2 linked regions of the Homo sapiens genome follow. The protein of the gene in region 2 purifies or fractionates together with the protein of the main gene of each other region. This does not show direct contact. Each region holds a gene or a part of one and is shown on either strand. Other genes may lie near its edges.

Evidence for each region.
Region 1: the proteins of USP33 (region 2) and ROBO1 purify together in Homo sapiens (affinity purification with western blotting; 5 studies listed by BioGRID and IntAct, with this or other methods). This does not show direct contact.

What each region holds. Positions count from the first base shown.
Region 1 is NC_000003.12:78,630,736-78,638,022, forward strand, and holds part of ROBO1 (roundabout homolog 1 isoform a precursor), read right to left. Parts: intron 5,374-7,287; coding exon 5,038-5,373; intron 3,308-5,037; coding exon 3,200-3,307; intron 571-3,199; coding exon 426-570; intron 1-425. UniProt on the Homo sapiens protein: Receptor for SLIT1 and SLIT2 that mediates cellular responses to molecular guidance cues in cellular migration, including axonal navigation at the ventral midline of the neural tube and projection of axons to different regions during neuronal development.
Region 2 is NC_000001.11:77,749,566-77,756,852, reverse strand, and holds part of USP33 (ubiquitin carboxyl-terminal hydrolase 33), read left to right. Parts: intron 1-7,287. UniProt on the Homo sapiens protein: Deubiquitinating enzyme involved in various processes such as centrosome duplication, cellular migration and beta-2 adrenergic receptor/ADRB2 recycling.

The sequences.
Region 1 (7,287 bases), on a different chromosome or scaffold from region 2:
AGCATAAGGTGATAATATCTAAGAACAAATAGCCTTCAGGATCCCATCGTTGTGGTATAAATTCACACGATTATCTTTCAAAAATTTCAAGACCTGTCACAGAAGTTCTAATACTCAAAAATCACAAAATTATATATCCATATGTTAAATTACGTATACACACACAGGATAGATACATGAGCTAATATGTATCATTTTTATATTCCATTCTAAGTTCCAAAAGAATCTTTCAAAGCACAGATTGCTTTTTTGGAAGCAGCAAGGAGAATTTTTACTTCCTGCTGACCAGCACTATTTTATTTAAAGGCAACTGTTTGTGGACCTTAGGAATCAGTCTTCTCTTGACCACCTAGTATAATAATTGCTGAAAATGGGCTGAAACAATCATATTACACTGTTTACATCTGTTTGGATGCTCCTCTTACCTTTCATCTACAGAAATGTTGTACTCTTCGCTATTGCTGTGTGGAGGAGGATGTGCTGGGGGAGGAGGAAGCAGGTCTGCCCAGTTCATGCCACCCTGTTTTGGTACCTTGGGTGTTCTTGCCCCTTTCTTGTGCCCCTGACTCCCTAGAAAGGAAATAAAATAGAAGCCATTGATCTCTGGCCTTTAAACTTTTTCCATTAGTCACAAGTTAATTATTTTTTGTAAATATGATTTTATAATTCATTTATATATACAGAGATAAACATGCTTTTTCATTAATTTTAAACAGAACTTTGTACAAGAGAACATGCAAGGTACTGCCATGAATAACTGCAAAATAAATAGCAAAAAAGCAATAAAACCATGAATGAATGTTTCAAGTCATATCATTAATAGTGATCTTCCTGCAGCAATTAATTGCATTATGGATTATCATCTCAAACAAATGAGCTGTAGATATATTTTCTCGAGTGCCTTTCTATTATTTAATTGCTGGAACTTAAAATACAATATGATACAGATACGATCTATTAGAGTTCCACTGTTGCATTAAATCACTGAATATATATAATTTGTACTTGTCCATTGAAATGTTTTAGGCACAATGAAATTACTAGTTCCCTTCAGAAAGGCAAGTACAGATGAAATAATAGCTGGAATAACTGATAGAACTAATGACAAAAGAAGCAGAAAAATGATTTTTAAAAGGGACAGAAGTGTTTTCAGCCACTGTTTCTGTACAATGATGGCTTATGGTAAAATGATGTTGCTTGAACATTCTTAGTAGTTTGACATAGCCCAATCATTCAAGTGCTCCAGTGTTCTCATTTTAGATCTGGCATATTTTTTAAACACAAGAGGCTATATATTTGAGAGCATTTATTTTAACAAAAACTTTAGGTCAACAAATATTTTGGGACAAAATATCCCCTTTCCAATATGTTATATTTTTGATTCATATGTGAATTATAGACAATGAGTCTATGATTATTTTTCTCATAAGTTCCCTTTATATCAGTGCATTATGTTGGCCTTAGTTTTTTAACCCTATCCAATCCTTCTCCAAGTCATGTAATATATGAATCAGGTCTGATCATATTCAATGAGCCTTGATTTTTTTGTCACTTGGGAATTTTCAGTCAAATGGCAGTGTTTGTTAAGCCAGATGTTCTTGTACTGGTAGGTTACCACACTAAGCGTGGGCTAGGGACAGGCTGTTATTAATAAACTACGATTATCAGTCCTATGTGTATGTCTCTCACTTCTCTCGTCCACCACTCCGGTGTCCAGCATTGGGATAACTGTGCATGTGTTGTAGACTAGACATTAACCCACATCTTCCTCTGGATTTCCTGATATACATCTACTGTAGCAACTCCATCAGTCCGGAGAGGCCTATCACAGATCTCTCCTATACCTTATTTACTTGCTTTGTTCTCTTCCCTAATTACCATCACGCATCTTTACATCTTTTTACCATATATTCACAGAATATCAAATGATATATAGCAGTAGAACACCCAGATCTAGGTATCTAAGCTGAGGGATGCTGAAGGTCAATTAAAGATTAATAACCTAGAATCATTGTTTATTTTCCCATTAAGATATGGTTTTCTCTATGTGACTAAAAATTCAAAGATCAAATGGCATAAGATAATCAAATATTAAAATATTTCATATGATTTTCTTAAAAGTAGATCCTTGAAATATTTCTCTTAATTCAGGATTGACTTAGCTTCAAAAAAGAAGTCATTTAATAAGATGTTAATTGTTAAAACAAACAAATAACATATAATAGAATCAGAGTAAATCTAAAAGGTAAAGGGCCATTTCTAAGCTCCCTTAATTCCAACAGAAACACAGGCTAGACAATGCCAGACCAGCGTGTTAGTTAAGGGAAAACTGTAAAATGCAAATGCCATATTCATTACAGAAGAAGGGTGGAGACTCTTGGCTAAAAGCCCCTAAGAACAACTTTAATCCAGTTGCTGGGAAGTGGCATTTCTACCCTCTCCTGGAGAAACATTGCTAGAGTCAAGATCAGTCGGTTTTGTTCTCATTGTGGTGTGATGTGCCACATGTTAGTTCTAATAACGAACTGCCTTTAATTAGAAAAACAGGACTTAAGTACCCAGCAAGCTCCCATCTGCAGCCCCTATCAGGAAAACAGCTGGCAAACAGCTGTAACAGCATGAAGACCACAGGGAAGAGGCCTCAATGTGGCTTTGGGAGGCACTTACAGACTGAGGTTGGGAGGTTGCTTTACGAGGCTTCAGAGCAAGAACTGAGGGATCGTAGAGGGATGATAAACTGAGACAGGCTCCTATTGTACCTGAATCTCATGTTATTGTCTCTCCGGCTTTTGATTCTGCTCAAGTGTCCTCAAACATTATGTGCTTTTATAGGCTCGTTTCAAATGGCAACATATTTAGCAGGTTAACTCTGTGCAACATTTTTAGTTATATTTTGGCCAACGGGGAAAAAGTTTCAACTGCCTTTAAAGATTAACCAGACATGTTTCTTCTGGCTTTGCTAAAGCTCATTAACAAGGAAGAAAATAGGACACTTAGTCTTTTTGCCAAATAGAACATAAAATGATTTAGTGAGTGGAAAGTCCCTCAAATTGCAGAGACAAGACACATGCCTGAGACTCAAATTACATACAGTGATTTAGACATGTCACCTACATACGTCAGTCCATTAGCACTCAATTTGTAATCTTGGAAAGTACCAGCTTTTTAAAGGAGAAGTTCTTTGGTTCATCTTACTTACCAGATGTACTACTGCCCCGGTCTGAGCTGTTGTAGGATCCTCCTGTGTTCTGGTCGTATGATTGGTTGTATGGGATAGTTGGAGGAACTGTGTCATTTGCTCGATAATCTAGACATATCAGATGAAAAAACAATAAACATTTATTTTCTCTTCATGAGCGATTTCACATCTCTGCTTTCTCTATATTTCTGAGTAACTAAAGAAACAAATTGGACCATTTATTTGCCTTTTTTCTCTTCTATTGTTGTATTCAGATTGTCAGGATATAAAAAGGCTTATACTCCAAATATATATAAACTATAAATAACTTTAATAATATAATATCAATATGATTTTAATAAGAATCACAAAAATGTCTGCAAATCATAAAAAATAAATCACAATACATAAAAATAAAACTGAAACCTGTCAGCAAGGTTATATCTAATAAAAAATATATCTATGATTAAAAAAAACAAATATCTTAATTTGCCCCAGAAATGCTTCTGCTTACTTAGGCAAAGGTGAAAATCCAAATGATAAGCTTGCCACTGGAATGTAGTCAGTAATAATCTGTCGTCTAGTTGCATTCCAGGTTCTTTATTATGGTCTGACATACCAAATCTGCTTACAAGCAGTATAAACAATAAATCAGAGTTCTGAAATATTTGTGCGGAGGCTCTCAGGGCTTTCCGAAGTCCACAGTAAAACAATATACTATGAAGGAATAATGTGACAATAGTTTGAATCACCACTGCAAACTCCATGATTACAGAAACTGTCCTGTTCATCTTTGTCAGTTTTTGTTATGAACTTATGCAGGAGTCTCGATCCATATTTATTAAATTGGGTTATTATACCAATCAAGTACTTTCTTAAACTTGAGAAAAGCCTAGCTGACTTCATTCTCGAGTTAAAACATAATATTAACTTAAATGAAATTTTTAAGTTATATTTTTGTCATCTTCAACTGTGATAAATCGCATTTTCAAAGAAAATGTTCCCAACCCAAACCTAAAGAAAATGTCTATGTCTCCAATTATCTCCAGTGTATTCTTTACCTGGAATAGGTGGGGATGCATTGCCCCCATCTATTCACATTAGAGCAATCCTGGTTTTCCTAGAGGTATAACTTTGCAAATCATGATATTATAGCAGTAGCCTAAAGGACTACAAAGAAACCAAACACCTATCTTTTCCAACTCATACACATTACAATACAGAAACATTTCCTTCAGGCCACAGAATACTATTCTGCGGCTTCAAGTTAATACTAAACTCAATTTATTTTAGGTTCTATACGGACAGACTTCAATCAGGTCAACCAAGGAAATTTAGGTTCTAAAATTATACACTGTAGCAGTCTTAATAACCACACGAGGTGGGAGACATACAACAAATTGAACCACTTCTCCAGTTCAAGTTTAATTTAATTATTTTATTTCAGGTTGATATAAAAATGCCATTGGTTTATATAACCACATAGAAGCAATTATCTTCCATCCTCTAGTGGAAAGAATGGGATAGTCTATTTATTGAAAATGCGAGGTATTGTGACAGTTGTACATCTGCCTCATGAATAAAAGATTGTCCGTCCCAATCCCTCACCTGCTATTAAATTTAAATTAATCTCAAAACCATTTGAAAATACTTATATATTATTATAAAATAAATTTTCCAAGGTTATTGTTGTGCTAATTAACTCTTTGACACTGGAAATTTTGAAACCAAAGAAATAAGAAAATCTCAGCGACAGAAGAAAAGATTTTACTTGCTAGTCGCAGACAAGTTTCAACATCTAGTCGAGGTGCTGAGAGTATCATACAGAAACAGATGGGAATACATGCAAGCCTCTTCACCTTTGTTCAGCTTGTTTTGCTCCACGATGTTGTACTGAACTGGTGCCACTTCTTGTTTCTGCTGTCCCAGTGGTTTCCAGTGCTTCTCGCCAGAGTCCCCGCTGCCATTGTTCATGTTGTTGCTGAGGTTTGACTGGATGAGCTGAGTGGTGGCGTAAGGAGTAGGCTGCCCTGATGGATTGACAAAACGCCCATCCTTCAGATTTGGGCTATTGAAGGTTTTCATCTCATTGATTTTGTTACTAAGGTCCACATCACCATAAACAGTTGACTCAGGGAGCATCAGATTTGTTTGTTTGTTATCCAGTTGGTTGTTATAATTTGCTATACAATCAGCTATGTGCAATGGAGAGGAAAAGGAAAAAATCATTCTGCGTGGTTATTCCTTTTAAATTTCTTTTTACGTAGCTTTGCGAGTCATCAGAAAATCGTTATGTAAAGTACAAGTGGGCTTAAATAAGATCAATAAAAACGGCCAAATATCCACATGTGCTTTCTAAAGAAAATTAATAATTGAAAAAATAAAAGAGGGTACACAGAATTTGTAGAGACTAAATAAATTTGAATTTCTGATAGTGCTGAAGTAAACAATTCATCCAATTTAAAATAATTTTCATTTAATAACCTCATTAATAGGAATTCCACTAAAATAATATATACATGTATATCTTTATGTGTCAACTTTTTATTTTCTAGTCTTTGGTTACTGAATTATTTGAAGCTACTGGTTAGCTGCTGAAGCAACAGACAAAGCACATAAATGAAAAATCCAAAGGAAAAAACTATTCATAGATCAAAGAACTTGAGATTTTGGTATTTTATAAAATACCTACATTTAAAAGATATGGGAACAGGGGTAAAATGATAGTAAATGGTACTAAGGAGAATTCTATTAGTTCTTGTTGTAGTCCTGTTGGATAATCATTATCCGGAAAACATGCTATATAATTATTTTCTCATGGTTTCATAATGACAACCAAAGAAATATAAAATGACAATAATAATAATAACAAAAGGAATCATAGTAACCTGGGTAATTGAATCAAATAAGCCTGAAATAATACTTAAATATCTAATATCTCATTTCCACTCCAGTTTTCTCTCTATTGAAATATTTGGACATTAAATAACTGAATATACATACATAATATATACATTCATTTTATATATATATATATATATATATATATATATATATATGGCCTGCAGTTGAAAATATTAAAATGGTAGGAAGAACTGAAATCATATTTTTAAATTAAAATAGATTTTAAATAGAAAAATTAGTTAAATTACAATGGTAAAAATGTCATTATTTTATGCATGTTGTCCAAAAGTGGTACCAACATTAACAAGTCACCTGTAGCATTGGTTTTTAACTGGATATGTTTAAAAATTATAAATTAACATGTTTGTTACTAAAGATGTAAATGTGAATATAATCTTAAGAAAAATGTGTAATTTCTCTATCCTACTGAATTCAACTATTCTGCATTTCAACCATGAACCGTCAGGGAACAGAAATATTTGATTCATCTGGACTTTGTGATTCTTATTTCTAATTTCTAGTTTTGTTTAACAGTGGTTAAGAAATACTATAAAGATCATGTGGTTTTTGCATTCTCATTTTGTTTCGCCAATCTGTCTATATTTGTGTTATCCAACAGAACTTTGGAGATATTGGACATGGTCTACTCCACTTTGTCTGATACAGCAGCCACCAGTCACACGTGGCCACTGAGCACTAGAAATGTAGCTAGTGCAAAAGAGGGACTGAGTTTTAAACTATATTTTATTAAATTCAATGTAAATAGCCATCTGTTGCCAATGGCTACCATATTGGACAACACAGCTCTACCTATTAAATGGGTATCGCCATTTTTTCTCTCCTATAGGTCTCAACCCAGTTTTTCTTGTACTTATGATTACATGAGTATCTATCTGTCTAGACATTCAGAATATGGGCCTCTAGAGGACAGAGACTTGGTCACATGGATACGTCACATCCACGTCCAGTGGACACTCAGGATTCGCTTTAAGGGCAGACATGCAGACTGCTCTATGATTTGTTCTTTATAGTGCATAGCATCTTTACTTAAATCCAACTTCTCTCTCGCCTTTCCGTAATTCCACAGGTTATTTTACTTCTATCATCATAGAGATTCCATACAATAATTTTAATATTTCCTATATTGGCAATATTGGGTTTTTTTTTGGGGGGGGGAGGGGTTGTTTGGTAAGAAATCTTTGGTA
Region 2 (7,287 bases):
GTGACCATTATTTTTGTAGCCCTTATGGTTTCTCTGAAGTGCATCTTGAACTTGGACCTGAGATGACATGGGTGCAGGTGAGATGCTATAAAGCACAAGTGAGGAAGCAGGTAGAATCAGAGAAGGAGGAAAAAAGGTTAATAGTGGAAGGCCAACTGGAGGCTGCTTAAGCCTTTGGAGATTTTTGTATAACTGCCTCAGAGTTTTGTATAACTGCCCCAAATGAAGGGGAGCTGGGTGGTTTTCCATCTACAGTCAATCCTCACTGATAAAGATTGCCTTTATCTAAAAGGCTCCCAGAACTTCCCAGGTACACTGGTTAGGTAGGGCTTGGCAAGCTCCTGAGGTGCTGGAGAGCTGAGGAGAGAAGTAGTTGAGATGGGAAGTTGTCAGTGTGTTAACTGTGCATACCAGCTACAAGTAAACATTGAAGTGAGCTGAAAGGAGATGGTCCAGGTATCAACTCTGTGTCTTAACAGGCATTCTCATTGAATAATCCAGATGTGAAATAAAAGCCTCAATTTAGATAGAGACCTAGAAGAAATGTGAGATGAAATGTGGTTAAAAAAAAAAATGCCGAATTTAGAAACTGATAGAAAGTGAGGAGGGGAGCCAGGTGCTGTGGCTTGAGCCTGTAGTCTCAGTCACTTGGGAGGCTGAAACAGGAGATTTGCTTGAGCCCAGAAGTTCAAGTCCAACCTGGGCAATATAGAGAGCCTCCCATTTCAAAAAAAGTAAATGAAAAAAGTAAGGAGGGATCTAAGATGGTACTGAGGTTTAAAAGTTAGTTAACTTGTGAAAAAGAAGGGTTGACAGAAGGACACTGACTTTCAAATTAGTTTTTTAAGGAAAGTGAAAAAATTGCATAGTATTCAGGAGAGTGATGATAAGAGTGTTGATGACCAGTCATTCAAAAGGAAAGCAGGGTGGAGACTTGAACAATGCTGCCATCCCCACAAACTTATAATGTCTGGCCCATGCTGGATTATAAGCATTTGTTAAATTAATTTCTATCCCCCAGGGCTTATCACAGTCCTGAAATACAGTAATGTGGTGAAACTATAGGGCTGAATGTGACCTAAAATAAGACCATTTCCCACAGGTTTTAACTTTTATAAAATCCTAGAAGAGGAATTTCTTATATATTTTACTTTTTTGTGAAAGGGTCTCACTCTTGCCCAGCCTGGCGTGCAGTGGTGCGATCTTGGCTCACTGCAACCTCCACCTCCTGCGTTCAAGCAGTTCTCACCACTCAGCCTCTGGAGTAGCTGAGATTACAGGCGCACGCCACCATACCCAGCTAATTTTTGTATTTTTTGGTAGAAATGGGGGTTTCACCATGTTGGCCAGGCTGGTCTCAAACTCCTGACCTCAAGTGACCCTCCCACCTTGGATTCCCAAAGTGCTGGGATTACAGGCATGAGCTGCCATGTCTGGCTGGAATTTCTTATATTTTTTATGGAAGCATTACTGTGTTTAGATGAATCAGTTTTGATTAGTTTTAAAATCAATATTATAGTCTGGTAAACAATAAAAGAATTGATAATTTTTCTTATGGTGGTTCTCATTTGAATATGGTGATAGCATTTGTTTTCTCATATTCTTTCTTTCTTTTTTCTTTTTGCTCACAAGCTGAACTGAAGATTTAGGTTTTTCCATGTTTCTATGTGGTTTACATGAATATTTTTAATGACTGTTCCGTAATGCCAGTATATTAACTCTTCATCTTGCTCAAAAGTGAGACTTAGAGTGAAAATTATCATCAGCTTATTTGAGACTCTGTTAGAACTCTGTCATATTCATTAATTCATTTCTATTTCCTCTCTCTTCCAATATTTCTCAAAATTATTTCAACGAGATAAGGCTAGAATTGACCATATTTTGCCATTCATTATTGGACAGATTTTTAAAAATCTTTATAGGAAATGCTAATTAATATTTACAAATCTCATTTAGAGGATGTTATTTGGAATGAAGATTGCCAGATTGGAGCTATACTTTGGTATTATTAATAGTGGTAATGTTAAGAATAGATTGTAGAACACATAGGTTGTAGCCAGAGAACTCAGTTAGAAGACTGCGTATTTCTTTTAATAGCCTTAAGGCTCTCATTAATTAGACTCTTAAGGATCAATGAGACAGATTTTCTAGTAAAAGAGAAATAAAAAGATTAGCACTACATTTCTTTTTCTGTGTTGTGGTTTTGAATGAAAATTAAGAATGATTAGGTAAGTATTATAGGACTTTGTGGGATCTTCAAATCCTCACAGAGGTTTGAATGATTTTATTCTCAGAATATTTGTTTAAAGGGAAAGAAACAGTTATTTAAAATGCTTGTCAGCTGATTTCTTTTGTGAAAAGTCTCCCTGAGCACTTACTATGGATTGAGAATAAAATAAACTTTTCTGCTTGTTGTTGCACTCTTCATTGATAACTTCCTTCCATTCATCAGTTTTTTTGGCTTGCTTTTATTGGGTAGCAATTTTCTTCCATGATAAATATGGAAAGATAAGCCATAAGCTTATTCCTTCATTGTATTTTTGCTAAAGTGTAATATTTCATATGGTACTGCTGGACTAGTACTCGTGGAACCATAGTCTAGATTGAAACTGTTGAAAGACAAATCAATTTTTTTATAATCATAGAATCTTAATTCAATTCTGAGTTTTTAGTGCAAAGTGCTTGCTGTCCTTTGAAGCACCTCTGACAGTTACCCAACCTCTGTGTAACAATTATGGGGAACATGCTCCTTCCATGAAAGTTCATCTGTATTTGAACCGAAGTCTTCACCGTTGATTGAATATGCTGTTCTGACTTTCTCAAGTTGCACAGAAAAGAAAGGATCCCTTTGGTCATCATGTTCAATTGGAACATGTGTATCAAGTCCTGGCATCTTTTGCCTTCTGCTGTTTAAACATCCATGCTTTCAGTTCGTAATGGTTGACATTTACTGAGTACTTACTATATCACCCTCTTCTAAGTATTTTATATATACTAATATATAATATGTAATTATATATTAACGTATTATGTGTAATTATATAATTAGTTTAAAATATTATATATTAATCTTCTCCAAAACTCTAGAAAGTAGATATTTGTAATTAGATCAGTGTTTTAGATGAGGGAGCTAAGGCAAAGAGAAGAAACTTACCACTGGTCCCAAATCTAGGAGATAGTGGAGCCTTGCTCCAGAAACTTTACTCTTAGTACAGTGCTATCTTATAAGATACAGTTTTCAAATTATTTCTTTTAAGGTTTTCTATGAGAGGCACTCTTATTCTGTAGCTTTTAGTATTCTTCTTAAATAAAATACTGTATTCCAGATATAATCTACTTATTTTATGCGAACATTAAGATTGGCTATTATTTTTTCCCCTTTTCACCACTCTATTCAATTAAAAAATTATTATTTTTTTTTTGTAAAGATGGGGGGTGGGTATCACTCTGTTGCCTAGGCTGGTCTTGAACTCTTGGCCTCAAGCGATCCTCATGCCCCTGCCTCCCAGAGTGCTGGGATTACAGGTGTGAGCCACCATACCCAGCAAGACTGGTTACTCTTTTTATTCTGAAACCTTGAAACCTAGTGTTCTGTTGATTAATTGAGTAGGAATTGCTACTTCTTCAAGGGTCTAGAATCCAAATACCTGACCCCCTTTTTTGGTCTCAGTTTATATGGTTGATTCTTTGAATCCCAATGTCGAATATCACATCCATCATTATTAAATTTCGTCCTGTTAATTTTAGCTAATTTTTTTTATTTTTTATTTTTTGAGATGGAGTTTTGCTCTTGTCACCCAGACTGGAGTGCAGTGGCATGATCTTGGCTCACTTCGACCTCCTCTTCGCGGGTTCCAGCAATTCCCATGCCTCAGCCTCCCAGCTAGCTAGGACTACAGACGCACACCACCACGCCCTGCTAATTTTTTGTGTTTTTAGTAGAGACAGGGTTTCACCATGTTGGCTAGGCTGGTAATGAACTCCTGACCTCAGGTGATCCACCGGCCTCGGCCTCGCAAAGTGCTGGGATTACAGGTGTGAGCCACCACGCCCAGCCAATTTTAGCTTATTTTAAAAAATAGTTTAATTTTTCTTTAAAAACTTATTTTTATAATTTTAAGTTTATATTTTACTAGCCTGCCTTCTGTAGCTTTATCCAGGTTATTGTTAAAAATATTGAGCAGTTCTGACACCTGCTAGTGAAGACCTCCTGCATTCATATTAATCTTATATGTAACTATTAAATAGCTACCAATCCTTCTGACATAATTTTTTTTCTCTGTAATGTGAATCTGACTTTTTATGAAGAGCTTTACTTTTTGGAATAGACTAGGCAATGGAATTCAGGCAGTTTCTCAATATTAAAAGCTCCTTAGGTTACCAACTATGTCCTGATGTGTAATTATTATATTAAGGCCAGGCGCAGTGGCTCACTCCTGTAATCCCAGCACTTTGGGAGGCCGAGGTGGGTGGATCACTTGAGGCCAGAAGTTTGAGACCAGTCTGGGTAACACGGTGAAACTCCGTCTCTACTAAAAATACAAAAATTTAGCTGGATGTGGTGACACATGCTTGTAATCCCAGCTACTCAAGTGACTGAGGCATGAGAATTGCTTGAACCTGGGAGGGAGAAGTTGCAAGTGAGCCGAGATTGCGCCACTGCACTCCAGCCTGGGCGACAGAGTGAAATTCTGTCTCAAAAAAAAAAAAAATTGTACTAATAACATGGTTCCCTATACTTTTCCTAATATTAAAATTTGAATAGCTGATTGATTATCTTCTATTAGGATAAGGGGTCAGAATTTCAACCTGGAATTTGGAGATTGTACTACGAAAATATTCTCCCCTTAAAAGTAATATCTTCGGGCGCGGCGCGGTGGCTCAAGCCTGTAATCCCAGCACTTTGGGAGGCCGAGGTGGGCGGATCACGAGGTCAAGAGATCGAGACCATCCTGGCTAACACAGTGAAACCCCATCTCTACTGGAAATACAAAAAATTAGCTGGGTGTGATGGCGGGTGCCTGTAGTCCCAGCTACTCAGGAGGCTGAGGCAGGAGAATGGCGTGAACCCGGGAGGTGGAGCTTGCAGTGAGCTGAGATCGCGCCACTGCACTCAAGCCTGGGCGACAGAGCAAGACTCCGTCTCAAAAAAAAAAAGGTAATATCTTCAGAAGCAGTTTTGTTTTGTTTTTGAGACAAGGCCTAGCTCTGTCACTCAGGCGGGAGTGCAGTGGTGCAATCACAGCTCACTGCATGCAACTTCTGCCTCCTGGGCTCAGGTGATCCTCCCACCTCAGCCTCCTGAATAGCTGGGACTGCAGGGGCATGCCACCAGGCCTGGGTAATTTTTGTATTTTTTTGGGGTAGAGACAGGGTATTGCCGTGTTGCCCAGGCTGGTCTTGAACTCCTGGGTTCAAGCAGTCCTCCCGCCTCAGTCTCCTAAAGTGCTGGGATTACAGGTGCGAGCCACCATGCCCAGCCCAGAAGCAGTTTTGCATTTACTTTAATGCAGATGAGCAATTTAGCCACCGGAGCTGTACATCATAGAGCGTGAGTGCAGTCGTTTTCATCTGGAAAAATTTTCAGTTGGTGTTGCTGCCATCATTATTGGTGAGAAAACTTCCAGTAGTCCAGTTAGTGTGGCAGATAGAGGAAAAAGCTGCCAGATACAAGATTACAAAGATAAGGACAAACAGATAAAATCTTGTGCACTCTTTGTGATTTCCAACTTGTAAGTCACAAGCTTCTACAGGAGTCTTAGTTTTGCAAAATCTACTTCTGTGGATTGGACAATAGCATTTCCATATACAACCATTTTCTGTTTTTTTCTAATGTCTAATACTCATCTCCTGTGATTAAATTATCAGACAAGAATGGAAGCATACATGCCTTCTTTCTTTTGGTGTACAATTTGAGAAGAAATTGAAGTAGCTAAGAACTCCCATTGTCTTACCCTACTATATCTGAATGCCCTACCCTCAATAAACATTTGTCAAATAAAGGAATAAAAGAATGATTTTATTACCTTAGTAAATAAACTGAGTAAAACTAGGCAAAGAAAATACTAAGGGTTTTCTATTTTGATAGCATTGTATTATACGGGATACTAAATATCCTTGGGACAAATTGTTAGCCTTTGTTTACATGCACTAATTCTTTTCCTTTTTCTTTCTTTCTTTCTTTCTTTCTTTCTTTCTTTCTTTCTTTCTTTCTTTCTTTCTTTCTTTTTTAAGTCAGGGTCTTGCTGTGTTGCACAGGCTGGAGTGCAGTGGTGCAATCTTGGCTCACTGCAACCTTTGCCTCCTGGGCTCAAGGGATTCTCCTGCCTCAGTGGAACTACAGGTGTGCACCACCACGCTGGGCTGATTTTTCTATTTTCTGTAGAGAGATGGGGTTTCACCATGTTGCCCAGGCTGGTCTTGAACTCGTCAGCTCAAATGATCTTCCCGCCTTGGCCTCCCAAAGTGCTGGGATTACAGACCTGAGCTGTCATGCGTGGCTGCCCAGCCAATTCTTTCTTTCTTTCTTTTTTTGGAGATGGAGCCTTGCTCTGTTGCCCAGGCTGGTGTGCAGTGGCGTGATCACGGCTCACTGCAACCTCTGCCTCCTGGGTTCAAGTGATTCTCCTGCTTCAGCCTCCCGAGTAGCTGGGATTACAGGCACCCACCACTATGCACGGCTAATTTTTGTATTTTTAGTAAAGAAGGGGTTTTGCCATGTTGGCCAGGCTGGTCTCAGACTCCTGAACTCAGGTGATCCACCTACTTCGGCCTCCCAAAATTCTGGAATTACAGTCATCGCACCTGGCCCTGCCCAGCCAATTCTTATTAAATTGTTTAGATAATGCAAAATTAATAGCAGAGCAGAGAGAATGTATTTATGTTTTATTCTTTTTTTCATCTCAGCTATCAGCAGAGAGAATTTATTTTAATCTTATTTTTTGCTTGAGATTTTAGAAAAAAATATTTATCTTGGAAGTTTCTTTTCAATCCTCTGATCCCATTTCTTTCCTCTGAGGCAAAATAGTATTGCCTAAAAAGCAGTGAGAAGAACATCTACATTTCATTGGCAAATGCAGAATTTTTACTTTAGAGGAAAATACATAGCTTAAATACTTTCAGTAAACAAAGCGCTCAGTACTCATCTTTAGGGATTAAGAAAATAAAACCAGGCTGGGTGCAGTGATTCATGCCTGTAATTCCGGCACTTTGGGAGGCTGAGGAGAGTGGATCACCTGAGGTCAGGAGTTTGAGATCAGCCTGGCCAACATGGTGAAATCCCATCTC